Linked DNA regions of Homo sapiens. The protein of the gene in region 1 interacts with the protein of each later gene in a pairwise test. Each region holds a gene or a part of one and is shown on either strand. Other genes may lie near its edges.

The links.
Region 2: the proteins of MYBL2 (region 1) and E2F3 interact in a two-hybrid assay, tested with the Homo sapiens proteins (one study listed by BioGRID).
Region 3: the proteins of MYBL2 (region 1) and MAPK6 interact in a two-hybrid assay, tested with the Homo sapiens proteins (one large-scale study listed by BioGRID and IntAct).
Region 4: the proteins of MYBL2 (region 1) and LZTR1 interact in a two-hybrid assay, tested with the Homo sapiens proteins (one large-scale study listed by BioGRID and IntAct).

Annotation. Positions count from the first base shown.
Region 1 is NC_000020.11:43,709,298-43,716,883, reverse strand, and holds the end of MYBL2 (myb-related protein B), read right to left. Parts: intron 6,922-7,586; coding exon 6,822-6,921; intron 5,397-6,821; coding exon 5,283-5,396; intron 3,883-5,282; coding exon 3,778-3,882; intron 1,751-3,777; coding exon 1,601-1,750; intron 926-1,600; coding exon 797-925; 3' UTR 402-796; downstream 1-401. UniProt on the Homo sapiens protein: Transcription factor involved in the regulation of cell survival, proliferation, and differentiation. Transactivates the expression of the CLU gene.
Region 2 is NC_000006.12:20,471,752-20,480,403, reverse strand, and holds part of E2F3 (transcription factor E2F3), read right to left. Parts: intron 559-8,652; coding exon 447-558; intron 1-446.
Region 3 is NC_000015.10:52,019,937-52,028,588, reverse strand, and holds part of MAPK6 (mitogen-activated protein kinase 6), read right to left. Parts: exon of another isoform or gene 7,025-8,652; intron 951-7,024; exon of another isoform or gene 716-950; intron 1-715. UniProt on the Homo sapiens protein: Atypical MAPK protein. Phosphorylates microtubule-associated protein 2 (MAP2) and MAPKAPK5.
Region 4 is NC_000022.11:20,995,797-21,001,395, reverse strand, and holds the end of LZTR1 (leucine-zipper-like transcriptional regulator 1), read right to left. Parts: coding exon 5,524-5,599; intron 5,434-5,523; coding exon 5,284-5,433; intron 4,701-5,283; coding exon 4,595-4,700; intron 4,511-4,594; coding exon 4,430-4,510; intron 4,165-4,429; coding exon 4,048-4,164; 3' UTR 2,364-4,047; downstream 1-2,363. Other genes in the region: THAP7 (THAP domain-containing protein 7), read left to right, coding at 1-140, 609-749, 964-1,516. UniProt on the Homo sapiens protein: Substrate-specific adapter of a BCR (BTB-CUL3-RBX1) E3 ubiquitin-protein ligase complex that mediates ubiquitination of Ras (K-Ras/KRAS, N-Ras/NRAS and H-Ras/HRAS).

The DNA.
Region 1 (7,586 bases):
TCTTCCTTGCTTACTGGTCTGACCTGGGGGCCACGCTCAGCTTGAGGCAGGGGCTTGTTAATGGGCAGGTGAGCCACCCAAGGCAAGGGCCAGGCAAGGCCCTACTGCACCAACCCATCGTCCTCCTCCGCCCCCAGTCTCTGCCCACCCCCGCCCAACCCCATGGCTATTAATACTCAGAGCTTTGCAGAGATGCCCACTGGGTGCAGAGACGAGAGAAATTGCTCTCATCTCATTGTGCCCCTCTGTGGAAACAGGGTCAAGGGCTCAGGCCTGGGCTGTGCCGATAAGGCTGGCCTCTGAGGATGAGCATTCAGGTCCCTATATCCCAGAAGAGGCCCCTAGGTCACCAGGGAACCATGAGCAGGGCCCAGTAGAGAGGCAGAGTCCAGACCAGCACAAAGAGAGAGGCAATTTTATTCTTCCAAAAAAATGCACCAAGAGAGGGTGAGCACAGGAGCACCCCTGGCCACATCCCCCATCCTAAGCAGGGTCTGAGATGAGGCCAGGCCTGACGTGGGCTTGGGAGAAGCTGACGGAGCTCCCTGTGGCCTTGGGGAGGGAACCAGGCAGACCTGGAAGTGGAACTTTGTTGTTAGCACCAGGAGCCGCCCACAGCTGGGCTCGGCAACAGGGCAGCACATGGCCCTGTTGCCTCCACCTGAGAGTCTGGGGAGGGGCTGGTGGCAGAAGGCTCCCTGCAGGAGGTCACCTGAATGACTCTCAGATTCACAGACCCCCTCTGCCCCCACAACCCCTGTAAACATGAGAATGGGCTCGTGACACCCTCAACACCTCAGGACAAGATGAGGGTCCGAGATGTGTGGCTGGGCTTCAGGCGGCCCAGGAGCTGCCGGGCTTTCTCCTGCATGAAAAGCTGGTCCCTGGTCCCCCCGCAGGCCACCGTCTTCCAGGCACTGGACATCTGGGAGGAGGCAAGAGGGTTACCATCCAGGCAGGGACTATGTGTTCCCAACAGACCCTGGTGATCCTGGCCAGGGAAGGGTAGAGTTATAAGCCTCCCTCCCCTAGAAGCCAGAGCCTTCTTATTCTCTCTCCACATTCCCTGTGACCCTGGACAAGTCACTTCCTGGCTGTGGGCTTCCTCAACTGTAAGTAGGACGCTGGACAAGGAGACATGGCCATGCACTGCCCGCCCCGTGCAGCACCAGCCTCGAGGAGAAGCCACAGCCAGGAGGCGGGTGAGAAGGAGCAGTGAGACGGGTCAGCAGCCTGAAGCCAGCCCCTGCTTGAGGACAGACATGTACTAAGCAAACCAAATACAGGGATAATGACTTAGTTACAAGTGAAACCCAGGCCACAAAAGAGAGAATGGCAGAATGGGGGTATCTCTACAGAATGTAGGGTCAGAGAAGGCTTACCCCTAAGGAAGCAGCATTGAGACTGAAATCAGAAGAGTAAGTTAAGCAAATGCAGCCACGGGAAGTAGCAGGAAAAGCACCCAGGCAGAGGAACAGCCTATGCAAAGGCCCTGAGCTAAGAAGGCGGGCACTGCAGGACCCCCAGGGATGGCCAGCACTCAGCCCTGAGCTAAGAAGGCGGGCACTGCAGGACCCCCAGAGATGGCCACAGCACTCACAGGGGCAGGTGTCGTGAAGTGGCTTCGGGGCTTCTGGGCCACTGCTGCCTTCTCGGGCTTGGCCTGCAAGAAGCCCTGGTTGAGCAAGCTGTTGTCTTCTTTGATACCTGACAGGGTGAGGCTGGAAGAGTTTGAAGGGGCAGTTGTCGGCTGAAACCAAAACCAAGTCAAGGAGTCACCATTTTGCGAGAAGCTGTGAGAGGGAAGAAAAAAACCCGCAATCCCACCCCAGCACCACCACCTGGCTGCTGAGACCTGAAAGAGGATACACACTTTTCCAAGCCTCAGTTTCTGCTTTCAGATAGGGAGTTTACATGAGCTTAAGCTTACTTTATACTTAAAAGATTAAGCAAAGGGCCAGGAGCGGTGGCTCACGCCTGTAATCCCAGCACTTTGGGAGGCCGAGGCAGGCGGATCACGAGGTCAAGAGATCGAGACCATCCTGGTCAACAGGGTGAAACCCCGTCTCTACTAAAAACACAAAAATTAGCTGGGTGTGGTGGTGGGCGCCTGTTGTCCCAGCTACTTGGGAGGCTGAGGCAGAAGAATGGTGCGAACCTGGGAGGAGGTGGAGCTTGCAGTGAGCCGAGATTGCACCACTGCATTCCAGCCTGGGAGACAGAGCCAGACTCCGTCTCAAAAAAAAATTAAGCAAAGAACTTAATCTTGTTCTAAAGAACTTTCTTACTTAAAAAAAAAAAATCAAGTAATCAAGTAAAGAAACGTGTGTGCGTTTCAGAGCCTGATTCAGTGGTGTGTCTGGAGGCACAGTCAAGTACGTGGGGGCACATCAGCCCTGGGATGGGTGCCGTGCAGCCCCCAGGCCATAATAACATAATCAATAAATGTGGAGTATCACTGAGCATTATCCAGTAATAACATACTCAATAACGTTGGCTTTGTCACATAAAGCCTCAGGAGGAGCCAAGGCTGTTCCTAGTTTTCCTGGGACCAGAAACATCCACAAGCATCATAAAGACGCAGCTTCAACCCCAAGCACAGCGGAGTTGCACAAAGCCCCTCCCACGCCCTTCCAGTCTCTCTGCTCTGCTTGGCACTGTGCCCTCCTGACTTAGGCTTGGCACCCCTTTTATAGGCTTTTAACTGGGGCTCAGGGAACCTGAAAGATCCCAGAGAGCAGTGATGGTGTCATAACTCAAACCCAGGCCCACCTGACTCAATCTGTGCTCTTCACTCCCTGCGGTGATGTTTTTTTCTTTGCAGTAACCTGGCTGCAGGTCCCCAGCCTGTCAGAGACCCCTAGCCAGGACAAGGTTTCTCTGCAAGGACCGTGAGGGCAGCAGTCTACTTGGAAGATCAGGCAACCCTTAACCTTTGTTCATGACGCCGCCATGCCTCTCACCGCCTCCCCACTCTGAGCCAGGGCAAGCCAACTCACCCCATTGTGAGCAGAGAGGGATCAGCAGCACACCCTGGCTTCTGGGGACCCAGGCTCTGCACAGGCAACAACCCCCTTTCTGAGGTCGACCTCACTGTAGCACCCGGCACAGCAAGTCCACTGGCCTGGGGGCTGTATAGCACCCATCCCAGGACTAATGTGCCCAAGTGCCTGGCTATACCTTAAGACACATTACTAGGCTGGGCACGGTGACTCACGCCTGTAATCCCAGCACTCTGGGAGGCCGAGGCAGGCAGATCACCTGAGGTGGGGAGTTCGAGACCAGCCTGACCAACATGGAGAAACCCCGTCTCTACTAAAGATACAAAATTAGCCGGGCGTGGTGATGCATGCCTGTAATCCCAGCTACTTGGGAGGCTGAGGCAGGAGAACAACTTGAACTCGGGAGACGGAGGTTGCAGTGAGCCGAGATGGCACCATTGCACTCCAGCCTGGGCAACAAGAGCGAAATTCCAATTCAAAAAAAAAAAAAGAAAAAAAAAGACACATCACTGACCCTCTCTGGGAGAGCGCAGGAGACCCAGATGCATGTTTTTAAAACATGTCCTAGCCGCGCAACTCTGCCAAACAAAACCTTCTGTGAGAGACAAGCAGAGCTGCTGACTGAAGCCATGAGTGGGTGCCCGGACCCACCCTCCCTGATAGCCCCTCCCTGCAGAGCCCAGGGTTCCAGAAGCCCAGTTGGAGAGTCACTACACTAACTCCACCTTGAGGGTCCTCTCCAAAACTCAACAGTTCCAAGGAGCAGAAGCCTTACCAAGGATAGAGACTTGGGCAGTGTGGACATCATCAGCTTCACATCCTCATCCACAATGTCAAGAGCCAGAGACTTCCGGACTTTCTTGATGGGGCTCCGCCGCAGCTAGGGGTTGGCAGATAGAAGGGGGTTAGGGTGAGTGTCTGGATTCCCCATGGTCAGCACCTGGATGGTCATGGCCATGGATGGTCACAAAACCAGGCCCTGCTGCAGTGCAGACTTGGAGCAAGGCCCAGCTAGTGGGAATCTGCTGTCAGAAGAATGGGGTGGCTGGGAAAGTTAGGCCCCATGGCCCCATTAGACTCTGTACCCAAGGTAGACCCTATCCTGCCAGGTGCTGCGACAGTGAGCAGGAACACAGCATGAACCTCCACCACGAAGTGACCTGTTCTCACCCCGAATGGACCAGACACAGCCCCTCAAACAGGCCCAGCAGAGAATCACCCCAGTAACACCTAAAATAGCACCCACAGGCCAGTAATATGGGAACACAAACCCCTCAGGACAAGCCCCTCTACAATGCCTAATACAATCAAGGAACGCCCCATTCCTAACCGTGCACCTCACAGAAGCAGGTCCAGGGCCTGCTCCGATACCAGGGAGCGGCTCTGAGAGTCACATCCCCACTCTACCCAACAGTGCACTCAGCAGGGGCTGCCATGGCTCACAACCATCCCCACCAAGGAGAGGCCAGGGAGGACCCTGGAGGCCAGAGGCCAAGTTCTCTCCACGTGCACATGGGGTGCCAGCTCGGGCAAGTCCCGCCCAGGCTGACCGCCCACCTCCCCTCCTTACCTAACACCCTGTACATCCCACCGTTCCCAGCTCTCCCTTGAGGAGAGCAGTCTGGGAAAAAGGAGCACTAGGAGACTCGAAGGGATCGCGCACTGTCATGAAAGCTAACGACGCAGTGGGAGGGAGGCTGGCATAGAACGGAGGCTTGGGACAGTCCCTTCCCTGCCCCCCTGCCCAGGAGCCCCTGCAGACTCCACCTCACCTGAACCCACTCCCCCACCCCCAGCTCATGCAGCTTGACACTCAGCCAGGCACTGCCTGGCCTGGCTGGCTCATCCCGACCGCCTCGCCTCCACCCAAAAGATTCCTTTGGAACCTCCCTTTCTGCGGCCCTTGGTACCCTGTGAATTCAGTCATGGTGTGTCTGTCTAGCATCTGTCTCTGCCCCCTGAACACTAAGGGGAGATCCAGTCTGGGTCGTAATTGCTGCTCCATCCACCACATCCAGCCCAGCCCAACTTGAGCAGGGTCCGAACACAATGCTGGATAAGTAAGTGAATCCTTCAAAGCAGAGCAGAGGAGGGTCCCAGAGACACTGTCCTTATCTTGTCAGTTTCCTCAACAACCACCGTGCGAAAGGGGGCAAAGGGGATATGCTACGCCCCCATTCTCCCCAGCGCCTCACTTTCTACAACCTGTCCCCAGACGCCTCCCCCATGCCACGGCTCCAATTCCCCCTGCCCAGGCTCTCCCACCCCTACCCTACTCACCCCAGGCTTCCTCTTCTGCTTCTCGGGCCTGATGTCGTCCTCGATGATGAGTTCGATGCCAGCCTCAGAACGCAGCACCTCCTTCAAGTCCTCCTCCAGGTGCGGGGTCTGTGGCTGTGGGTAGGCACGGGGCAGCCCACGTGAGGCACCACACTCGGGCTGTGTGTGTGTGGGACTGTGGGACCAACCCAGCTGCAACTGGGCTGTCCTGGGTAAGGCAGGAAGGAGGCCTGACGCCAGGATGCAGATCTCACACGCACCATTCACAACCACTAACTGCTGCCTTGGACAAGCAGCTGATGACCTTGATTCCCAGGGGCCTGCCATGGCTGGGAGCAGCCCAGAGACGCACTGTAACCCTCACACAGCCCTGTGCAGTAACCGTCATTTTAAGCAGGTAGAAACAGAAGCTCAGAGATCAACAGCCTGGCACACAGTCACACAGCTGCTGAATTAGGACCCCGACAGCTCAAAGCCCAGGCTCACTCAACCCTTTGTTCCACACTAATGGGGGCTCTCAAACCCATTTCCCTTTCTCAGGCCTCGGGGTTCCAAGGACCTCTCCAGCTTCAGGCAACAGAGAACAGGGGAGGGCGAGTGCTACTAAGAGTGAAAGGTGCGAATCACAGCCACTCCTCATAAGTCATCCGAAAAGCCCCCACAAACTTTAATTACAGCTGCCAAGGTCATGTGATTTGCCCTCACACCTGTTTGGAGAGCATGCAGATATTTTAGTACAGAGGAGCCAAATCTCCACTGCAACAGGAAAGGAGCACTAACTAGTGCCTCACCTCGGCTCATGTAGCATGGTCCGTGGAAAGTCTGCTTGACTCAGAATCAGTTCCATGGCAGGCCCAAGGGAGCCTCAGCCCCCAGCCACCTTGGGCTTCATAGGAGGCTCCATGCAGTGGAGAGAGACAGCAGGGGGACCCGCTGCAGACCTTGTTCACAGTCCAGTGCCTCCACAACCATGCCTTTCTCTCACCCTCCACTGATTTCTAAAACACCTGTGTGTTTCAGAAAGCCCAAGGTGCCAACTCCTTTTTTCATAGAGAAAACACAACCATCCCATCAACTGGGAAGAGCAGGGGAGAAGGGCAGCCTGCACACTGCAGGAAAGACGTCCCCGAGGGGCTTTCCCGTGCTCTGTAGAGAACTGGGAGTTGGTCAGAGACAGGCCAGAGTAGCAATTTGCCACTTCTCTGAACTAGGCCCAGTGCTTATCTTTGCCTGAAAGTGTTTAAGTTATTTGTATTTCACATCAGTCTCCCCCATCCTGAGGCTGAGTGTCACGGGATACCACCATGTCTCTAGCACCAGCCGGCGCGTGCTTGCAAACTCAGGTGCTCAGGAGCAGTCGGAGGAAGTGACAAAGAGCAGCCTCAGCTTCCCCATTTATATTATCAGGATCTCTGCATCTTCTCAGGAGAAAGAATCAAATGAGACCTCAGAGGGAAGGGTCCTGTGGACTGAACATGGTTGGATGAACCGAAGGGATCCCACTGTGCAGAGATCCACGGCAGCGACCACACCACGTACCAGGGGCTTCAGGGGTCCGTACTTCTCCAGGGCGTTCTTGAACGGGGTTGGCGTGTGGGGAGTGTTGTCCATGGAGTACTTCTGATCTGGGGTTACAAACCTGCCAGGGGCCAGAACGGGGGAACTAGTGACAGGATAGGGGCCGACGCCAGGCACTCTGCTGCCCTGGCTCCACCTTCCCCCAGTGCGACCTTTGGCCCCAGCACAGGTTCTCGTCCCATCCCTCTCCCCACCCTGCAGGTCCAAGTCAGGGGCTCGGGGGAAACAGAAGGGAGAGGGGAGTCTAAGAGGGGCCAGGAGCCCCAGACAGGTGGCAGATAGCCGAGAATGCTGCTCAGTCATGGTCCAGACTTGGGACTTTCCAGAAAACAAGGCAGTCCGTGGCCACACTTCAGGAACAGTGAGAGGGGGCACGGAGCAAGGTGGGAACCCAGGAAGATCCCATCCTGCCCAGCTCTCCCTGGAGAGCCTGTGTGAGAAGGATGGTGGCAGCACAATGAGGGAAAGGAGGGGCGAGAGGTGAGGCCAGCATCTTCCCAGGTCTCCCAAGAGTTCACCGAGGTGATGGACACGTGGAGGGAACCCTTCAGCAGAACAGAGAAAAACCCAGGATGGTCTGGTCCAGAAGCAGAACTATAAGATGCTTCTATCAGATGTAGACCCACCATGGGTGATTTCCACCTGCCCTAGAGCAGGGGGGCAGAAAAGGCACCTCACGCCCCAGAGCGCCAGGGCTGGTGGTATGGGGCTGGGCCAGGCTGGCTG
Region 2 (8,652 bases), on another chromosome or scaffold:
AAAGAGAAACAGCCTGCAATTTATCGGGCTCAATCAATTCTTACGCTATCATATGCTGAGCTGGAGATTGAGGTCGGCACAGACACTGGTGACTCTGGCATAGTTCGTGGACATCCAGTTTGCCTCAGACTCTGAAGCAATGTCCATTAAGGGAAGTTAAAATTAAATTTGATATAGAATGGTGCCAAAAGTTCGTATTCCGAGTTGAAAAATGAAACTACATACAGTTAAAAGAAGTCTTCCCTTATGGTACCAGTGTGACTCTGTAGCCTTTCACTGGTTGTCTGCTGACATTGTATTTATTTTTTTGGATAAGCACAGAAAGAAATGAAAAAGAACAAAACATGCCAGAATTATTCACACCTTGGCATCCTTCCGGCCATAAGCTTTGAAACTTGGAAATGCCATACCAAGGAGAATAAGGAAAGAGATGAAAAGATCCTTACTTTTTGGACTATCTGGACTTCGTAGTGCAGCTCTTCCTTTGCCCTTGGGGGTTTTTAAACCATCTGAGAGGTACTGATGACCGCTTTCTCCTAGCTCCAGCCTTCGCTTTGCCTGTAATAAGAAAGTGCGATCTCTCGTCACCGGTCATATGGACAAGAACAAGAAGGGAGGCAGTTTGTGGGCTGGCCTGCCAAATGCTGCAGGCTCATGCCAGCTCTCACCCCTCTGCTCCACCCCACTCAGCATCTTGTCATTCCCTAGAGCCAGGATTCTAGCGTTGTAGGCTGGGTTGTCATGCACACTCTCTTCACCTGCCGTGATCATCCGTCCACACCCAGATGGACAAACACAGCGATCCTTCAGCATTAGGTTCAGGAGTCACTTTGTTCATTGATTCAACACATCATGTGCCTGGCATGGGGTTGGATGCTAAGAATATCACAGGCGCCGTGGGGCTTAAATTCCCTTTCCACAGTGAGTCTTTCCTGCCCATCTCCCATTCTCCGACCTGGGTTGGACCCCCTTCCTTGTGCTCCCCAAACACTCTGTGTTTATTTGTATCATGACACTTATTCGGTATTACTGTAAGACTTATCTGTTTCTCATTTCCTTTAAGGCAGGGACTGTTTCCCATTTATCTTTGTATACCCAGTGCTTGGCACAGAGCCTGGGTTTCTGTAGATTTTCAATCACTCTCTCTATATACTGTATATTCAATGAGAGAAAGGGTGATTGGATCGTAACACAACTAGTCACAGACTACAAACGGCCCTTCATCGGGAAAACAAATACTGCAAACATGCAATCTTGGGCTTCAACCACTATTACTTTCTCCATTTTCTTATCAAGCCTAGCAAATGAGAAGCCCTTATCTAAGTTTTTAATTTAACTCCAATTAAATTTTAAAATATCCACATAGCGTCTTCTAGGTACCTAGGCATTGGGCTTAGTAAGCAAGATAGATAAGGGGCTTCGAGTCCAAGAGAAAAGATAGATGGTTAAGCAGTTGTTAAGTACTAATTGTATGGGTATGACAGGTGTTTTAGAAAATAAATGGCACCAACTGGACACTCAGCACAAAAATATGTATTTAGGCTCATTTTCAGGCAGATTCTTCTAATGAGGAGATTTGCAGTTTCTTTTTTTTAAGACAGAGTCTTGCTCTGTCGCCCAGGCTGGAGTGGAGTGGCGCGATCTTGGCTCACTGCAACCTCTGCCTCTGAGTTCAAGTGATTCTCCTGCCTCAGCCCTCCCCAAGTAGCTGGGACTGCAGGTGCACGCCACCACTCCCAGCTAATTTTTGTATTTTTAGTAGAGACGGGGTTTCGCCATGTTGGCCAGGCTGGTCTCGAAGTCCTGATCTTTGGTGATCTGCCCACCTTGGCCTCCCAAAGTGATGGGATTACAGGCGTGAGCCACTGTACCCAGCCGAGAGTTGCAATTTCAAAACAACTCCCCGTGATGTGAAAACGTAAGTAATAACTTATCAGCGGAAGCTAGATATTCAGCCCCTCTATGGAAAGTTACCAGCTAACCCTGCACCGTCTACTACGATAGCCACTGGTTACTAGCTCATCCAAACTGACATGTGCTATAATTGTAAAATACACACTGAATTTCGAAGACTTAGTACAAAACAGGGTAAAATATCTCAACAATTTTAGTAGTGATCACATGTTAAATGAAATAAATAAAATACAACTGACCCTTGAACAACATGGGTTTGGACTGTCCGTTTCCACTGATTTTATTTTTTTAGAGACAGGGTCTTGCTCTGCCGCCCAGGCTGGAGTGCAGTGGTGTGATCTCAGCTCACTGCAACCTTGTCCTCCCAGGCTCAAGGAATCCTCCCATCTCAGCCTCCTGAGTAGATGGGACCACAGGTGCACACCATGATGTCTGGCTAATTTAAATTTTTTTTTTTTTGGGTAGAGATGGGGCCTCTGTATGTTGCCCAGGCTGGTGTTGAACTCTTGGGCTCAAGTGATCCTCCTGCCTCATCCTCCCAAAGTGCTGGGATTACAGCCGTGAGCCACTGCACCCGGCCATGAGTGTGTCCACCTATATGTGGGTTTTCTTCTTCCTCTGTCATCCCTGAGACAGTAAGACCAACCCCTCCTCTTTTCTTTCACCACACCTTCCTCAATGTGAAGATAACGAGGATGAATTTTATGATGATCCACTTCCAGTAATGAATAGTAAATCTATTTTCTCTTCCTTATGATTTTTTTTTCATCCAGCTGCTTTATATGCCCATATGCCTTCTACACTTTGAACCCTGGACCAAGTTCAGCTGCTAGGAAACGCAAATTCCAGAGCATACCTAAGATGCATTGGATCAGAAACTCTGGGAATGGGGCTGAGCAATCTAACAGGCCTTCCAGGTGATTCTGATACACCTTAAAGTTGGAGAAACCTGGCTTTAGATCATAAGGGAAAAGAGTAAGACACTCAGGCAAAGCCCAGCTCTGCCCAGCACGGCCTATTTCACACACCCTCACCTCTAGTCCTGCTTGGCTGATGAGGGAAATCTATCCTGTGGATTCCACTTTCATTCATTCCAAACTTTCTTTTATTGATAACATTTCCTCTCTAACTTCATTGTAAGAATACAGTATATAATACATATACCATATGAAATGTGTTAATGACTGTTTATGTTATTGGTAAGGCTTCTAGTCAACAGTAGGCTATTAGGGCTGGGTGCATGGATCACACCTGTAATCCCAGCTACTCAGGAGGATGACTTGAGGCCAAGAGTTCAAGACCAGCCTGATCAACGTAGCAAGACCCCCCATCACTAAAATAATAATGAAAACCCCAAACAACAGGCTATTAGTTAAGTTTAGGGGAGTCAAAAGATCTATCTAAATTTTTGACTGTGTCAGGGCACCTCTAACCCCAATGTTGTTAATGGGTCAGATGTAGCATTAAAATTATTTCATCTGTTTCTTTATATATATATTTTACGATGTGGCTTGCCTCAGTGGCACACCTTATCTTTCTACTGCAGTGCTAAGTTAAACATCATTCTAATGGCTCCGGAAGGACAATCTGCTTGCTGGACTTCATCTTCCCCTCCCAGCCATTCTGTCAAGTCCTTGTGTGGGCCTGCTGTGGTTGGTCCAGCAAACATTCACTCTTTATCAGGCAGAAGCTCCCTGTTTGTTCCTTGGGGAGCCATCCCTTTCCTGGTCTAAGCGCATCTGTGCACACAGGTGATCCAGGCCTGGCTAATCATTGTGGCCCATCCTGCCCTCCCCGCCCCCACCGCGAACAGGTTGAATGGCTTATGACCAAGGCTGGAGGAGCAAAGGCTAACCCCAGGAATGTTTCTGGAACTATCTGGCAAGAAGCAGGTATGTCTTTCCAGTAAGGTTGGTAAGTGAGGAGCCTAAAGCTGCCTGAGAATGGGGCCTTCCCAGGGGAAAGCAGAGTGGAGAGAAGGAGAGAGAGGGGTCTGAGACCACCACTCAAAACTCTGGCTCTGGTCATGCCCTGGGGGCAACTGTTGGTCTTTCCCAGACTTTCCAGTTACATTAGCCAATAAACTCTCCTTTTTGCTTAAAGCATTTTTTTTTTTTGAGACCCGGAGTCTCGCTCTGTCACCCAGGCTGGAGTGCAGTGGTGCAATTTCAACTTATTGCAAGCTCCGCCTCCCGGGTTCATGCCATTCTCCTGCCTCAGCCTCTCGAGTAGCTGGGACTACAGGCGTCCGCCACCACGCCCGGCTAATTTTTTGTAGTTTTAGTAGAGACGGGGTTTCACCATGTTAGCCAGGATCTTCTTGATCTCCTGACCTCGTGATCCGCCTTCCTCGGCCTCCTCAAGTGCTGGGATTACAGGCGTGAGCCACCGTGCCCAGCTGCTTCAAGTGTTTTGAGTCGGGAACCTAGAATTGTGCTGTTGCCAGTGACAGCTTATGGAACTGGCTGAGTCAAGATGGCTATGGTGTGACAGGGAGTTGGCAGGCCTTGTTAGAGAGTGGCAGAGTGTGTTGGTCACTTCTTGTGACCGCCAGGAAGATACTACAGATAGAGAGAAACTTCATCTGAGGCTGGCCCGCCTCAAAGAAAACAGCTTTGCTATGGAGGCCTTCTCTACAGAAAGCAATCTAAGGAGACATAGAGCTGTATTCTCTGCCCAAATTAAAGTCAACAAATGGGCTGGGCACAATGGCTCACGCCTGTAATCCCAGCACTTTGAGAGGCCGAGGTAGGCAGATCACCTGAGGTCAGGAGTTTGAGACCAGCCTGGTGAAACCCTAACTCTACTAAAAATACAAAAAGTAGCCCAGCATGGTAGCATGCACCTGTAGTTCCAGTTACTTGGGAGGCTGGGGCATGAGAATTGCTTGAACCTGGGAGGTGGAGGTTGGTGCCTCCGCAATCCAGCCTGGATGACAGAGAAAGACTCTTGTCTCAAAAAATGAAAATAAAGTGAACAGAAAGAAGGCAAACTTGGAAAAGAGTCTGGGACCCAGAACTCCTAGGGACCTAGGGCCGTGCCTCAGCAGTAAAGAACCACCCACTGGTCAGCAGGCTGGGGGCATACTAGTTTTATCTCTCCCTCCCAGGCTGCTGTTTCAGACTGCCATGAGGCAAAGGCCTATGGAACCATTAAACTGTAGGTTAGGGAAATTTCCATGTCTGCTGCTAAGTGACTGAGACTTAACTTCGAAAGACCGGGACTAGTCTTCATGTGTAACTCTCGTTACTAAGCACCAAACCATAAATTGACCAAATTTGAATGCTAGATGGACAAGCTACTAAAATTGCAAGGCACTTTTATTGCGAAAGAATCACTAAGTCTAGAAAGTGAAGGTCCATGATGTTGAACCTCTAAGGAAATCAATCACTAGGTCCAAAAGCCACGCCAGAAATAAGTGAGGTGTGAAGAAGGGGCAGCCCCAGAATTCCTCCCAGGAGGTGGAACTTGGGGTGGACTTATAGGCTCTACAAACTGCTGTCCCTGTGGAGGACATGACAAGAAGCAGGAGGTGAGCACTTTATGTCATTTCCCCTTTTCAGAAGGGAGGTTCCCGTTGGGTTATCCTGTTATTTTTCCTCCCCTGTTGAGTGAACAGGGAGGGCGGAACTGGATTTGTGGGGACCACATATTACCTGTTTGGTCTCAGATCTGAACATGGGTGCAATAATTAGAATCTCTTGAAAAAGGGCTAAGAATTTTGATATTTGATGGAGCAGCATTATTTTAATGCTTAACTTAGCAAATTCAAGCACACATGCCTGGTAAAACAAAAAACTATATGACAGGATTTAAATAGTGCGGGTGAGCTCTGTCTACACCACCCTGCCCTGGGCTGAGCACCAGGGTAGATGGAAATCTCTTCTCTTGGTCATCTCAATTTTTGTTAGTTCACAGCGTGAGCATCGTACTGATTGGAGAGGTATTCATTGTTTATGCACAGATCTTTACATTACATGGCCCCTACCAGTAAAACAGCCAACTTATCCAGTAATCAACAGAAGGATGGGCCATTTGGTTCCAAGCAGTGGTAAAGCCTGGCTCTGTGAGATTCTGTGTGGAACTCCATGTGGCACCTTCCGGCAGTACTTTCAAGGGTAACTTGTACTATAAACAAGGTATGTGCTAACGTTAAAACCTCAGCCCCATGGACGTTAACATGCCTCTGCAAAGAAACAGTTGTACTGGTAAGCAGTTCTGAAAATCTATGTAGGAAAATGTATGTAGTTAGAGCTGGGTGCAATGGTAATGCGCCTGTAGTCCCAGGTACTTGGGAGACTGAGGCAAGAGGATCACTTGGGCCCAGGAGTTTGAGACCAACCTGGGCAGCACAGCAAGTCTCCCATCTCTCTCTCTCAAAACGAAAAAAAACCACAAAACCCCAAAAGAATTACCACTGGAGCCAGTGGGGAACATCTATAGTCTGCCTGCCTGATATTTGTTGCCCCTATTTTTTTTCCACTGGGGAAGGAGCTCTACTGATGTTCTTAGTTTCTATTAGTCTCCAAGCATGAAAAGACAAGACTTGAGACTGATCAACATTAGGACGACTCTTCCCATCAAAGTTGCAGAGGTGAGTACTGAATCCTGGCCTCAATCCCAAGGCTCAAGTGTCTGGGGTAAAGATGAGACCATGACCAATGCAGGAAGGGTCAGTCAATCCTGGGATTTTTCTTGGGAACCACTGGGAAAGTACTGGGTTCTTTTCACTGGGCATTATTAGGCCAGTAGGGTGCGAGCCTGGAGCTACTTGGGAAGTGAGCCAACACAGAAGAGCTGGGGAAAGGCTGAGTCCCAATCCCTTCAAGGGAGGTGCTAGATACAGCCATACCCAAAGGCACACATGCCACAGACTTTCATTTGTGTGAGCCCACAAATATCCCTTTTTGGTATAAGGCAGCTGAATTAGATTATTATTAATACCACTGATAGATACAGACCTTTAGTATTAATTATTACACAACAAATATTTGAGTGCTTATAATATGCTACGCACCATGTTAACTGTTTTCCACTCAATTTTGTTATCTTATTTTCACAACACCCTTAATAAGGTGGCTATTATTAATTCTTATTTTATAGAAGAAAAGGGAGGTCTAGTGTGATTAACTGACTTTTCCAAGATTCTATAGCCAGTAAGCACACCTACAAGTCCATGCTTATAACTACTTCATGAAAAGATTGTGAAAAGTCCCATGTAAAAATATTTGAATAGCTAGATTAAGTTGATATTGCCTTAATGACACACTTTATTTTATTCCTGATTTAAAAACTCTTCTTTACATATAATAAATGTATATGGTAATTTAAGCAGCATAAATGAGTATAAATGGAAAGCAAACTTTCTCCCTACTCCTGATCCCAGTTCCCTTCCTCAAAGGCAAGCACTATGAAGTTACTTGGATATCCTTTCAGATAGCTATATACATACTTGTATTTACCTAGACTATCTACCATCCCATCTTTAAAAAGTTTTTCCCATAAATCGTAGCAAAACACACACTTTTCTATTAATAACATATGTCCGAGTTAGACCTTATCAGAACACATGGAATGATCTCATTTCTCATAGCTGCATAATATTGTATTAATTAATATGCCACGATTTATTTACTTAAGCAGACATATACTAATGGACATTCAATACTCCTCTCCTATAATCATTTTTCCAATGAATAATCATGCTGGCATTGTGGGGTAGGTATTATTACACCCAGCTTGCACTGAGACAGAAGTTAAGGATTTACCCGAGGTCTCAGTTAACAAGGGACAGATACTAGAATTCTTATTTTTTATTTTTTTAGAGACAGGGTCTAGCTTTGTTACCCAAGCTGGAGGGCGGTGGTGTGATCATGGTTCACTGAAGCCTCAAACTCCTGGCTCAAGCAAGCCTCCCACCTCAGCCTCCTGAGTAGCACTACCATGAGTGGCTAATTTTTTTTTTGGTAGAGATGAGGTCTTGCTATTTTGTCCAAGCCAATCTTGAACTCCTATGCTCAAATGACCCTCCTACCTCAGCCTCCCAAAGTGTTGAGATTACAGATGTGAGCCTCCACGTTCAGCACAGATACCAGGATTTGAACCTCAGTCTATGCAATAATTTGTCAGTGACCATGACACCCTTGGCCTTATTGAGATTCCTTCCTCTGCTTCCATAGCAACATCCATGCTGCCACTGCACGATTTTACCACCATGACAAATGCATACTCCAGGCTTCCTCACTGGACTCTAAGCTCAGGTCATAAGCAGCTTAGTTTCCCCAGAGCCTTGCATATGGCATGCACTCAGTCAAATTGACTTATTTATTTTGAATGAACCAAGGAATAAATTCCCAAAGTCCCTTGGCAGGTAAATTACAAAGCTCCAATGTTACCAACCTGCAGAAGGGATAGATGTGAGTGTGTGTGTGTGTGTGTGTGTGTGTGTGTGTGTGTGTGTGTGTTGGAGGGGGGGCAGGCTGGAGTTTAATCTCTATAGATGACTTCAAAAGACTTTCAAGAAATATAAAGGAGAAAAATTAAAGTTGCAGAGATATGTGTAATATAAAAAAATATGAAACCACAGACTTCACTAAAATTTTTCCTAAATCCATAGAGAAAAAGGCCTGAAAATAGATCCACACCAAATGTTAATGGTGGTTATCTCTGGGAAGTCAAATTAAATGAGTAATGACTTCATGTTTACATTTCTGCAATTTTTAATCTTATTTGAAAAAG
Region 3 (8,652 bases), on another chromosome or scaffold:
TAGCATCACTGAGGACCTAAATTTTTTAAATTTTTCTTTTAACAGCCACACATTTCATTGCAGAAAGCACTATTGATTAGTAGCTACCATACTGGACAGTACAGCCCTAAAGCACATCTGCATATTAATAAAGATAATCCAGAAAGGGAAAAATTCATGATGTAGGCAAGAACGAGGTAAGTCCTTAAGAAGTCAACAGGCTGGCAGGGTGCGATGGCTCACTCCTGTAATCCCAGCACTTTGGGAGGCCAAGGCAGATGAATCACTTGAGGTCAGTAGTTCAAGACCAGCCTGGTCAACACAGAGACGAATCCGTCTCTACTAAAAATACAAAAATTGCCGGGCGCGGTGGTTCACACCTGTAATCCCAGCACTTTGGGAGGCCGAGGCGGGCGGATCACAAGGTCAGGAGATCGAGACCATCCTGGCTAACACGGTGAAACCCTGTCTCTACTAAAAATACAAAAAATTAGCCGGGCGTGGTGGCAGGCGCCTGTAGTCCCAGCTACTCGGAAAGCTGAGGCAGAAGAATGGCGTGAACCTGGGAGGCAGAGCTTGCAGTGAGCTGAGATCGCACCACTGCACTCCGCCTGGGCAACAGAGCGAGACTCCGTCTCAAAAAAAAAAAAAAAAAAAAAAAATACAAAAATTAGCCGGGCGTGGTGGTGGGCACCTGCAGTCCCAACTACTCAAGAGGCTGAGGCAGAAGAATCACCTGAATCTGGGACGCAGAGGCTGCAGTGAGCCAAGATCGTGCCACTGCACTCCAACCTGGCCAACAGAGTGAGACTCCATCTCAAAAAACAGTAAATAAATAAATAAATAAATAAATAAATAAAGAGAAATCAACAGGCTGAGCAGAGTGGCTCATGCCTGTAATCCCAGCACTTTTTGAGGCCGAGTCAGGATGATTGCTTGAGCCCAGCCTGGGCAACACAGGGAGACCCCGCCTATAAAAAAAAAAAAAAAAATTAAGATTAAAAAAAAAGTCAAGAGAAGACATCCAGAGCACAAATGGCACAATCTACATGGGATACAACATGAACAAAGCAAGGCATGAAATTACAGTAACGGGTAGAGATGAAGACTCAGAATATGTATTAAGCCTGATTGGAATCTTAAGCATAAAACTCAATTACAGAGGGCTATAAAATCCAAGCAGGAGGGGGAGGGTAGGTAACTTACATCTACTAAGGACCTATTATGTGACAGGCATTTTCTTTTTTTTTTTTTTTTTTTGAGAGGGAGTCTCGCTCTGTCACCCAGCCTGGAGTACAGTGGCACGATCTCGGCTCACTGCAAGCTCCGCCTGCTGGGTTCAAGCAATTTTTCTGTCTCAGCCTCCCGAGTAGCTGGGATTACAGGCATACGCTACCATGGCCAGTTTTTTCGTATTTTTAGTAGAGATGGGGTTTCACCACGCTGGCCAGGCTGGTCTTGAACTCCTGACCTTGTGATCCGCCCGCCTCGGCCTCCCAAAGTCCTGGGATTACAGGCATTAGCCACCGCGCCCGGCTGTGACAGGCATTTTCTTTTTTCAAGACAGAGTATTGCTCTGTCGCCCAGGCTGGAGTGCAATGGTGTGATCTCGGCTCACTGCAACCTCCGCCTCCTGGGTTCAAGCGATTCTCCTGCCTGGGCCTTCAGAGTAGCTGGGAGTACAGGTATGCACCACCATACTCAGCTAATTTTTTGTATTTTAGTAAAGACGGGTTTTCATCATGTTGGCCAGGCTAGTCTAGAACTCCTGACTTTGTGATCCGCCTGCCTCGGCCTCCCAAAGTGCTGAGATTACAGGCATGAGCCATCGCGCCCAGCCATGACAGGCATTTTCTAAATGACAAATTATTTCTCTCATCTCAAACTACAGTCTTGTAAATGTCATTTTACAAACAAGAGCACTGATGCTCTTTACACACACAGTAAATGCCAAGATTTGGACATAGGCCTGTGACTATAGGGTTAGAATCTTCCCACTGCATAAGGTGGGAGGTTAAGGCCAGGCACGGTGGCTCACGCCTGTAATCCCTGCACTTTGGGAGGCCGAGACGGGTGGATCACTTGAGGTCAGGAGTTCAAGACCAGCCTGGCCAACATGGTTGAAACCCCATCTCTACTAAAAACATAAAATTAGCTGGGCGTGGTGGTGCATGCCTGTAATCCCAGCTACTTGGGAGGCTGCAGCAGGAGAATCACTTGAACCCAGGAGGCGGAGGCTGCAGTGAGCGAAGATCACACCATTGCACTCCAACCTGAACAATAAGAGCAAAACTCCGTCTCAAAACAACGACAACAACAAAACAAAAAAAGGTAGGAGGTTAAGAACCACTGTTTCGGTACCTGGAATTAACATAAACAGCAGATCAATCTGGAAGTAATCAACAAGTGCCAACAAGCCTAGAGGGACTAGGCCAGAGGCAAAAACTATCCTGCCAATGCTTTCCACAGGATAACTAAGGAAAACTTAATAGCTACTTTTTAAAAATTCAAGTGAAAATACCTGTTAAGATGGAAAGAAACTGACTTGCTTACAACTTAGATTATCTACTTTATTGAACACAGATGTATCAATTAGAAAATCAGCACTGTTTTATAATACATACTGAAATAATATCTGGGCATATTAGAAAAACTAAGTCAACATACTCTCTCTCCAATTTGTACATTAAGAAAGGACAATTATTAAACTGAGTCTAACCAGTTATTAAATTACAGCTTAGATTTTAGAGTGGGCAAAGATCATCTAGATCTGTGCTGTCCATGTAACCACCAGCTACATCCAACTATTTTTATTTTTTTTTGAGACGTAGTCTTGCTCTGTCACCCAGACTGGAGTGCAGTGGCGCTCACTGCAAGCTCCGCCTCCTGGGTTCATGCCATTCTCCTGCCTCAGCCTCCCAAGCAGCTGGGACTACAGGCGCCCGCCACCCGGCTAATTTTTTGTATTTTTAGTAGAGACAGGGTTTCACCATGTTAGCTAGGATGGTCTCGATCTCCTGACCTCGTGATCCGCCCGCCTCAGCCTCCCAAAGTGCTGGCATTACAGGCGTGAGCCACGGCGCCCAGCCCCAACTATTTAAAGGAATTAAAATTAAATAAAAAATTCAATTCCTCAAGTGCACTACTTGCTCGTCAAGTATTCAACAGTCACACATGGCCAATGGCTACCTCACTGGATAGCACAGAACACTTCTATCATCATAGAAAGTTCAACTGGGCAGTGATTAGCTTCCAAATTTTCCATTTGACTTTTTTCAGAAGGGCCAGTGGAAAGAGCAACTCAGAAGACTAACGAGCTGAGCAACCATGTATGCATCATTTTAATTTTTATTTATTTACGTATTTTTTGAGACAGGGTCTCTTGCTGTTGCCCAGGCTGGAACGCTGCGGTGCGATCACGGCTCACTGCAGCCTCAACCTCCTGGGCTCAAGCAATCCTCTCATCTCAGCCTCATAAGTAGCTGGGACTAAAGGTGTGCACCACTACAACAGGCTAATTTTATTTTATTTTGTAGAGACAGGGTCTCACTATGTTGCCCAGGTGTATGCATCGTTTAGCAGTGCTTCTCAAACTGAATGCGCACTGAATGACTTGAAAATCTTGTTAAAATGCAGGTTCTTCCCAGCACGTTAGGAGGCCAGGAGTTTGAGACGAGCATGGGCAACACAGTGAGACTCCAATTCTTAAAAAAAAAAAAAAAAAAAAAAAAGGCAGTGTATGATGGCACATGCCTGTAGTCCCAGCTACTGAGGTGAGAGGATTACTTGAGTCCAGGAGTTCCAGGTGGCAGTGCGTTATGATCACACCACTACACTCCAATCCAAACTGGGCAACAGGGCAAGATTGTGCCTCTTATTTACAAAAAAAGAAGGCCGGGCGCGGTGGCTCATACCTGTAATCCCAGCACTTTGGGAGTGCTGGGCGGGCGGGCGGATCCGAGGCGGGCGGATCACAAGGTCAGGAAATCGAGACCATCCTGGCTAACACGGTGAAACCCCGTCTCTACTAAAAACACAAAAAATTAGCCAGGCGCGGTGGCAGCAGCTGTAGTCCCAGCTACTCAGGAGGCTGAGGCAAGAGAATGGCGTGAACCCAGGAGGCGGAGCTTGCAGTGAGCCAAGATCGTGCCACTGCACTCTAGCCTGGGTGACAGAGTGAGACTCCGTCTCCAAAAAAAAAAAAAAAGAAAAAGAAAAAGTAGATTCTAAGATTCTAATTCAGTAGGACCGTAGGACTGAGATGAAGTCAAGATTCTAACGTCTATCAAGTTCCCAGGTGATGCTAATACTGTTGGTCCAGAAATCACACTTTCAGTACCAAGATCTTAGATCTCTTCAGGCCTTGGTTTCCTTAGCTGTCAAACGATGTACATGAATGAAGCAAGATAATGCCCATGACCCCTCCAAAACACTAATATTTTAAAGTTTTATGATTGTACAGAATTAAATGCATACAGATTTGCACTTTCTGCAGAGGCAGACTTTTCTGAGGTAAATGCTAGGATTCTAAAAAACAAGTTTTATGATACCATTTTTTTCTGTGAAAAAAATACCAAATTTAACGAAAATCAATGGGAAATTGTATTTGCTATACAAACATTCAATCTCTGAACAATTTTTTAGAAATGGACTTAGAAGACTGACATGTATAAAAGACAAAACTTTTAGAACTCTATTGGCTGGGCGCGGTGGCTCATGCCCGTAATCCCAGCACTTTGGGAGGCCCAGGCAGGCGGATCACAAGGTCAGGAGATGAGACCATCCTGGCCAACATAATGAAACCCTGTCTGTACTAAAAAAAATACAAAAATTAGCTGGTCATGGTGGTGCGCACCTGTAGTCCCAGCTACTCGGGAGGCTGAAGCTGAAGAATCGCTTGAACCTAGGAGGTGGAGGTTGCAGTGAGCCGAGATGGCGCGACTGCGCTCCAGCCTGGCAACAGAGGGAGACAGCGTCTCAAAAACAAAAAACAAACAAACAAAAAAACTCTTAGAGAGACACACATTATTTTCCAAATACGCAGTTCATGGAGGTGAAAAAACCAATCAATGCTGGACTAGGCCCAAATCACTGTCACCTTAAAAGCATCAGCTTCACATGAAAGCAACCCCTGGAAAATGCCATTAACTACAGTAACATTGGAGTTGTTTTTGTGAAGTCTCAGTCAAGGCTCTCAGCAATAAAAATGAGCAAAATTCCCACACCACTGGCAGGTTGTAGTGTAATGTTCAACAGCCCACAAAACAGGCTGAAGGAACTAATGAAGGCAGCCAACAATGCCACACAGAATTTACTTCTGAGGCATCTTCTTTCCATTTTAACAGGGGACCTAGAGTAACACAAGGTTCAAATGTAACAAAGAACTGGATAGCAGTGGTAAGAAGGCTCAGCATTTCATAAAGCAGTACCTTGGAGACAGGAAGCAGGCTAAGATATCCAGTTATTTTGTTTGTTTTTCGGTTTTTTTTTTTTTTTTTTTTTTGAGACGGAGTCTCGCTCTGTCACCCAGGCTGGAGTGCACTGGCACAATCTCGGCTCACTGCAACCTCTGCCTCCCGGGTTCAAGCGATTCTCCTGCCTCAGCCTCCTGAGTAGCTGGGATTACAGGCACGTGCCACCACACCCAGCTAATTTTTGTATTTTATTAGAGACGGGGTTTCACCATGTTGGCCAGGATGGTCTCGATTTCCTGACCTCGTGATCTGCCTCCTCAGCCTCCCAAAGTGCTGGGATTACAAGCGTTAGCCACTGCCCCCGGCCTCAGTTTGTTTTTAAACTCTGAATTATGCACTACAGCTAATTACCTATATTTGAAAACAATGCCGAAAATACGTTAAACCTCTAAGTAATGTGATGCTCTGAAAATTTTCAATACTTTTATATTTGTATTTTTATGTTTCCTCTAGTAGGAAATTTTTTTTAAGTTTGAATTAAACTTTGTAAAAAAAAAACCTCTAGGTATAAATCATGCAATACTCTTCCAAAATAGTTCCAAAAATTTAATTCACATTAACAATACATTTTATGGGCTGGGAGCAGGGGCTCACACCTGTAATCCCAACACTCTGGAAGGCTGAGGCAGGCAGATTGCTTGAGCCCAGGAGTTCAAGAACAGCCTGGGCAACACTGTGAACATTCATCTCTACAAAAAATACGAAAAACTAGCCAGGCATGGTCGCACACAGCTGTAGTCCCAGCTCCTCCGGAGGCTGAGGCAGGAAGATCACCTGAGCCCGGGAAGTAGAGGTTGCAGTGAACAGTGATCGCACCACTACACTCCAGCCAGGGTGACAGAGCAAGACCCTGTCTCACAAAAACAACAAACACTTTACTGTCCACAAACTCCTCAAATCCCTTTGGAAAAATAAACAGTATACACAGAAAAACCAGAGGATGGGGTGGGAAATTTTTTTTCTTTTATTTTAAAAATTGAGACAGGGTCTCGTTATGTTGCCCAGACTGGTCTTGAACTCCTGGCCTCAAGCGATCCTTCCACCTCAGGCTCCCAAAGTGCCGGGATTACAGGTGTGAGCCAACGCACCCAGCCCCACTCTTAAACTGCCATTCTCAATCTTTTTCCCCCTCTCAATCTTATTTTAAGCCACCTTGCTAAACGTTGGCTGTTTTAAAATCAGTCAAAAGATTTATCTTATTACCAAGTTTCAACTTAGAACTGTACATTCAGCTTATCTTTAAAAAAAAACCATGAAAAATAGTGACTAATACCTATTTCAAATTGTCTTTATTAAAACAGAAAATTCACATAAATCACAAAGCACAATATATAATTATGTTTTAATAATTCTGAGTGAAACTTTCATATTCAGAGCCATATCTGATTAAATATTAAATATAAAGATAACTTTCACATAACCAATAAAAACATAAGGTCAATTTCTACCGACACCATAAAAGTACTATCTGTCCTTTATAAACAACCTGTAACAAATCTCTCTCAGCAGTAGCCAAAAAACTGCTAGTATCAAACATTTAATTTCAGCACCTGACCAGAAATTGGTTTTACCTTTCCTCTCAGCAAATGTTACACAATTCCACCTGTAGGGTATATGATATCCTTTTAAAATGCAATTTAAGAAGCCATTACTTTTTTAGAGAAACTGCTGTTCCTCTTCAGAAAAAATGAGAGAGAATTTCAATGTGGACAGGAACATTTTAGCCTATCATTTAGAAAAAAATACAGTGTATTTAAAAAAAAAAAAAAAAAAAGCCACGTAGCAGTCCGTGGGCAGCATGAGTCATCATCCAACTCAAAACTTGCAGCAGCACTTGTAAGCTTCCTCCTACCCGACCCCCATCCCCTTCAGCAAAGTACCCTGAGTCAGCAAACCTTACTATTTTGTCAGTTATGATTCTCACGATGCTTTAAATGAATTTATGTAAAGCACTGCAACACTTTTAGTGCTAACATTAGTCTTTAGAATGTGTGCATTTTTTTATTACAAAATTAACTGACTTCAAATCACTCTTCTCTGGATTTTTTAATAACAGAAAGTAGCCAACGACTACTTCTAATCCTCTTTTGCAAATAAATGAATTCCAGAATATCCTCATATACGAAGTTTTTTCTAAAATAGTCTCCATTTTCCAGTGTTTTCTTCTCAACAGTAATACCTAGGTGATCAAATATGTTCTGCTCAAATCTGGCATATTTTCTAGATTAACTGCAATTACTGAATTCAGGACATCAATGAATAATTTTACAAGCTTAAGGCAATTCTTAATAAATGATGTAACATATGTGAAATGACTTTACAATCCCTGGCACATAGCAAACACTTCATAAACATGTTTGAACAACTACTATCTAAAGACAAAGTTCCTTTCACCCAATTCAAAATTATTTTTTAAACATTAAAATCTGATATTTCTATGAAGAAATTCCTGATTTCAGGGCCAGGCCCTGTTTGGACCCTACATTCTTCTGGTCAGATCATTCTTTCCATCTCAGTTTTCCAGCGTTAAAGAGGGAGGACATGTGCAATTGGAACTGTAAGAGACAGGCTAGAAGAATCAGCCATCAGAAAATTACTCTGAAGCTGCTTGCTCTTCATTGTATGGCGTGTTAATTTTTCCCCTTGACAAATCATCTGTATCCGTTAAAAAAAAAAAAGTCATTACTGAGACTGCATCTTTAGCAATGAACACGAATTCTGCCGTTAATACAAGTAGGCTTCTAATTCCAACTCACCAGTCCCTTTCACTGGACCTTTTCCAATGAACAAGCAAAAGAAAAAATAAAACAGGAAAGGAATCAAGAAGCTCCCGCTGCACAGAGATCCCCCTAACACCTAAACCGGTTGGGTCCTACACTCGCCAAGAAACAAAAGGATGCCAAAACACCTTTACTTTTCGACACAACTCACAAGGCGGACTAAAATGCACAGCAAAGTGACAAGGCCCTTTTTGGTGAACCGACAAAACAAGCTTTCATTTGGGCACTTTTACAGACCACCACTTAAGGTCCCGAAAGAAGCTAAGGAAAGACTGTAGGGCCGAGGGAGGAAATTAGGAATTTCGTCTCCGAGTTTTCAGTACCTCATTCATGGCAAGACTCAAAACTTGGGCGGACTTCAGGGCTCTGAGACGAGCCGGGTGAGCGCTGCGCGCTACGCCACTGGAGACTTTGCCCGG
Region 4 (5,599 bases), on another chromosome or scaffold:
AACCCGAGGCGAGGCTTGTGGCTGGCCAACTGCCAGCGGCTGGACCCCAGCGGCCAGGGCCTGTGGGACCCGGCATCCGAGTACATCTACTTCTGCTCCAAACACTTTGAGGAGGACTGCTTTGAGCTGGTGGGAATCAGGTGGGCCTCCCTGCCGGCCGACGCTGGGGTAGGATGTGGGGCTCCCGGCGGACTGGGACAGCTGCAGGTCATGGAAGTCCCTTGAGCAGCCTGCGTCCAAGGGGGCTGTTTCCTGTTCCCAGCTCTGCACAGTGAAACCCACCCCCAGGATCACTGTGCCTGTGACACAAGGGGAAAACAGGAGCCTTTCCAGAGAGTATCTTTCAGAGCCCCAGTCTTGCCAGCAAGTCCACAAATCAAAGAATTCTTTCTGGCTGGTCAGCCCAGCTCGGCTTATGCAGGCTTTCCACACACCTGGACTGTGAGGAGTCCTGCGGGGAAGCGATTGGTGTAGCTGTAACTTGGCGTTCCCCAGACGTATTGTTTGCACGATGCCTTCCAGCATCCCACGGCGCTGCTGCTGGGGGCAGATTGGCCTGGGGAGGCAGCACTTGCTCTCCAGCTCATCTGGGTTGCTTTTCCCCGCAGTGGATATCACAGGCTAAAGGAGGGGGCAGTCCCCACCATATTTGAGTCTTTCTCCAAGTTGCGCCGGACAACCAAGACCAAAGGACACAGTTACCCACCTGGCCCCGCTGAAGTCAGCCGGCTCAGACGATGCAGGAAGCGGTATGTGATATGGGTGGGGGATGCCCCACTCCCACCCCTAGGCTGAGGGACTGGGCCCTAGGGGTGTCTGCCAGCAGTCTCGCTGGACAGGGTTCTTGCTACACAGAACCTGTGGATCGGGTTTGGGTGTTAAGGGTGGATCAGGTGGGCTGGTGGAGGGGGGTCTGGCAAGCCCTCAGCCTAGCCCATCAGTCTCTCTCTTCCCCCTTACCAGCTGCTCCGAGGGCCGAGGGCCCACAACTCCATTTTCTCCACCTCCACCTGCTGATGTCACCTGCTTTCCTGTGGAAGAGGCCTCAGCACCTGCCACTTTGCCGGCCTCCCCAGCTGGGAGGCTGGAGCCTGGCCTTAGCAGCCCCTTTTCAGACCTACTGGGCCCCTTGGGTGCCCAGGCAGATGAAGCAGGCTGCAGCGCCCAGCCTTCACCAGAGCGGCAGCCCTCCCCTCTCGAACCACGGCCAGTCTCCCCCTCAGCGTATATGCTGCGCCTGCCCCCACCCGCCGGAGCCTACATCCAGAATGAACACAGCTACCAGGTGGGCAGCGCCTTACTCTGGAAGCGGCGAGCCGAGGCAGCCCTTGATGCCCTTGACAAGGCCCAGCGCCAGCTGCAGGCCTGCAAGCGGCGGGAGCAGCGGCTGCGGTTGAGACTGACCAAGCTGCAGCAGGAGCGGGCACGGGAGAAGCGGGCACAGGCAGATGCCCGCCAGACTCTGAAGGAGCATGTGCAGGACTTTGCCATGCAGCTGAGCAGCAGCATGGCCTGAGGGGCTGCTGGACTGACCGAGGGGCTGCCCAGCAAGACTGCAGCCTCTTCCTCCCTCAGATCCCACCAGACCCACCAGGTGCCATAATAAAGCGGATTCTAGACGGAGGGCCTGCTGTCTGGCTCAGCTGGGGGCTGGAGCCCCTCTGAGTACTAAGCTTGCTGCCCCAGACAGTGGCTGCAGCTCCTAGAGGGCTCAGTCCAAGCTCTTTGCCAAGGAGAACAGGGAGCCTGGCTCTCACCCCTCAGAGCTACTGGTAGACAGGTGGCAGTCAGCCCTGCTAGCGCAGCTCCGTGCCCCACAGGGTTCTCTGAAGGGGCAGGATGGTGTGAGTAGGGGCCAGGAAGACAGCTCCAGGCGCCCTTTCCATAGGATCTGAAACAGCCCTGACTTAAACCAGCCAGCCCCTTTGAGAACACTTCTAAAACCCAGTCTAGATCCGGTTCTCAAGCAGGAGCATGACAGGCTTCTGTCCACAGGCCCCATCAGCCTGGTGGGTAAGCTGGACAACCCTCTCCCCGCCCCCTTCACTACCATCTCTATTTGAAAAACGGGGATGATGATGACAATCATCAACCTCCTGGGTCATGTCAGCAGGTAGTAAAGCCCCAACAAGCTAGTCCCTGGAAATCTAGGAAGAGGTGGCCAGAACATGGAGACAAGCACTCAGGTCCTGGCCTCAGCATCCTTTTCCTTCAACTCCCAGGAACCTGGAAGGCCTTGCTGCAGCTGCAGTTCTCAAACAGCTCCGTCTTGGGGTGACTCACTGCAAGTATGGCCTCTCCCTGCCGAGGAGCACAAATGAAATTCATTCTAGTCCCAGAAACTGCCACACAATTTCGTAAAATTTGCTTTTTAGGGCCCTTGGCATGTAATTTCATTTATTCATATAAGTCTAGATCAGGGTTCAGTGACAAGGGTCAGCATAGAGCAGGGTTGCAGACTGGTTCAAGGAGGCTTCTGGGTAGGCCCCTCCAGGAGGGATTTGGAGGAGGCTGCCCTGTGGGTGTGGCAGGAGCCACATCTTGTGGAAACTGGGTAGATGGGTGTGTGGCCCCACTCTGAGTGAATGCACCTGGCCCACATGGCTGGGCGCTGCAGCCTGCACTCCACTTCCAGGTGCTGACATATCCTCCCCAGCCATGGTCCTGGGCCTGCTGTGTCCTCACCTCAAGGGCCTCCCGGCTCAGCCTCTGCCCCAGCTCCTGCTCTCTCCTCCCTTGTTCCCAGCTCATCTTGCACTAGGCCACTTCCTAGCCTGCAGGCTGCCTATGGATCTCCTGTTAGCTAAGCAACTTGCCACTCAGGGCCCCCCACACACCTGCATACACCCAAAGGAGAGCAGGTCACTTCCCCAAGGAGCTGTGGCTTCATGGCAGCCACAACAAGAAAGGGGTCCTGGAATCCTGTTCCCAGTAAGGGAGCGCTGGCTCCCAGCACTAGAGTGGATCCACATGGGGCCCTCACTAGGGCAAGAGGGCAGCCCTCCTTCCACAGGAGCCAAGAGCATAGTGCAGGGGCAAGGCAGGGCAGAAGGGGCAGGAGCCCACCCCAGGCCTCCAGGATTCCCCTGGAAGGGGCCAGCCTGGAGGCCTTCACAGCCCTTCCCAATGTGACTGGGTGACCCCAGGTGGAGGCAGGAGTTGACAGCATGGATAGAGACAGGTAAGGCCACTGACCTACATCTGGGGGTCTGCTAAGCCATGGGCTGCTCAAGGGGCTGAAGCCAGCAGTGGTGGCCGGGCCAGCAAGGTGTGTGTGGTGGGTAGCACTGCTGTGGCTTTAATGGAGGCTTGTCTGTGACAGAATACTCAGCAAGGGACACGGGGGACTTTGCTGGCTTCTTCCCGGCCGAGCCCTGACATGCACACAGGTGGACTGGGATCCTTCAGCCCCTGTGAAAACCAGGCCTGGCCCAGCACGACCGACCTGGGAGCTGACCTCAGGGCCCTTCACTCCAAAATTCACCTCAAGTCAGGTGAGACCCATACATCATGGGTCCCCACTCACAAGTTCCAGGTGGGAAGAGGAGCCCCTTACATGGATCTCAGTGAGGGTGGGTGGGACAGGAGCAGCCCAGGCAGATTCGCTGGTGCAGCGCAAGTCTGCTAAGCCTCCTCCCGCATGTTGGAGGAGCCTTGGTGACAGGCCCCAGTGCCTGAGTCCACAACACGCCCAGGCCACAGAAGCCAGGCCAAGCCCCACTGGGTGGGAGGCCCAAAGTCTCTCCCCACTTCTGGGTGGTGAGCCCATCACTGAGCCGTGGCCTCGCATCCACACTACACCAGGAGAGGGTGATGACAGGAGGGGGTCTGCTTCATCATCCGCTCCCTGTGGGACCTGTGTCTTCAGTGAATTAATGAGTTTGGGGCCCCACATCCCCTCAGCTCTCTTTGGAGGCTCTGGGCACCCTGACCCTTGGCCTGGCAGGTGCACCCACTGCCATAGGCATGCGCATAGCCGGTAGTCTTCTCAGTAGGCAGGGCAGGCAGGCACGGCGATTCTTCACAATGGGCAGGCGCCACAGGGCCTCAGATGTCGGCGCCCAGCTCTGCGCACTGCTTGTCTGAGATGTGGGAGGCCAGGGAGTCTATGATGTCCAGCAGCAGCTGCTGGCTCAGCGACCGCAGGGTGGGCAACTTGGAGACCTGTAAGGCAAGCAGGCCGGAAGGAGATGGGACCAGATCCACCTAAGGGCCATGGTGGGCAGTGGAGCCCTGTGGGGCCTACCCTGCTCAGGGCTCAGGCTGGTCCCAAGGATGAAGCAAGGTGCGGCCAGTGATGGGCTGCTCTGCTTCTCTCACCCCCAGGGCCCACCACTGCAGGGGACCACAGAGCCTGGGCACCCTCCCTGCCTGGGCATGGCCACTGCCAAGGGGAAGCGAGTCCTGAAGGGGAGGCCAGAGCCCTGACCTTGGTGAACTGGTGCACAATGATGTGCAGGCAGTGCCGCTTCATGTCCAGTGCCTGCGTTTTGTCAGCTGCCTCCAGGATCTGCAATGGCAGGGACCTTGAGGCGCTGCCCCTTTCACCCACTCAGTGGGAGCTGCAGCCATGTGCACGGGGCTGGGGGGCTACCTGCAGCACGTTCTGCACCGTCACGTTCATCTCCAGGTTCTGCTTGCAGTACGCCTGCAGCCGGTTGTTGTAGAAGCCGTAGTAGTAGGGGGCCGCAAACAAGTAGCTGGGGCCTGGTTAAGGAGCTGACTAAAGGAAGCTGGTCCGCCCGCACCCTCCCAGGGAAGGACAGGGAAGGGCGCAGCTGGAGCCCCAAGCCCCCACGCCAGCATGCTCTCCAAATGGATTCTGAACTACTTAGTGGGTCAAAGGCCCCATTCAGGATCCAAAGAAAACCATGAATCCCCTCCCGAGAAAAATAGTGTCTGTACATCTGTAGCGCTGTTCCATGGCCTTGCAGGCCTAACAGGCATCCTGACCCTCCATGTTCAGACCCCTACTGAAGTGACATAAGGAGTACCTCCATGTCTGTGCTCAACTGTCACACAAAGCAATGACCCACCCCGTCCTCTGGGCAGTTGTGAGGGTCAGGAACCCACTGGTTCCTCCTGGCTGCAAACCCCTCCTTGCCAGCTGCCAACTGCTTCAGAGAGCACCAGGCCCAGCCCCAGGCACCAGCAAACCCTCTGGAGGGAGGCGCTGGGCCCAGATCACCTAGCTGGGGCAGGAGAGCGGGCCTCAAAGCCACCTGAGGTGGGTGCCAGGACCCCTTGGTGGGGACCTGGGAGTTCACTGGGGAGTGAGGATGCAGCGAGTCCTCGGGCGGCATGTTGACCTCGCCGTAGTAGATGTAGCGCAGCATGGACTCGAAGGCCTGCCTGCTGGGCACCATCTCCCCGATGGAGATGTTCACCTGCCCATCTTCGGGCATGAAGGACCGGAACATGGCTTCAAAGTAGCTGCAGACAACGAGCGGTAGGCACCTGGCCGTCAGCAGAACGAAGACACCATCCAGGCCCACCCTCCCCTCCTGTCCAGCCCCCACCCACCTGGAGCGGGCGGCCAGGATAGCCTTGTGGGCTGGCCGTGGGTGCCCGTCAAGCAACAGAGTGATGTCACAGAATT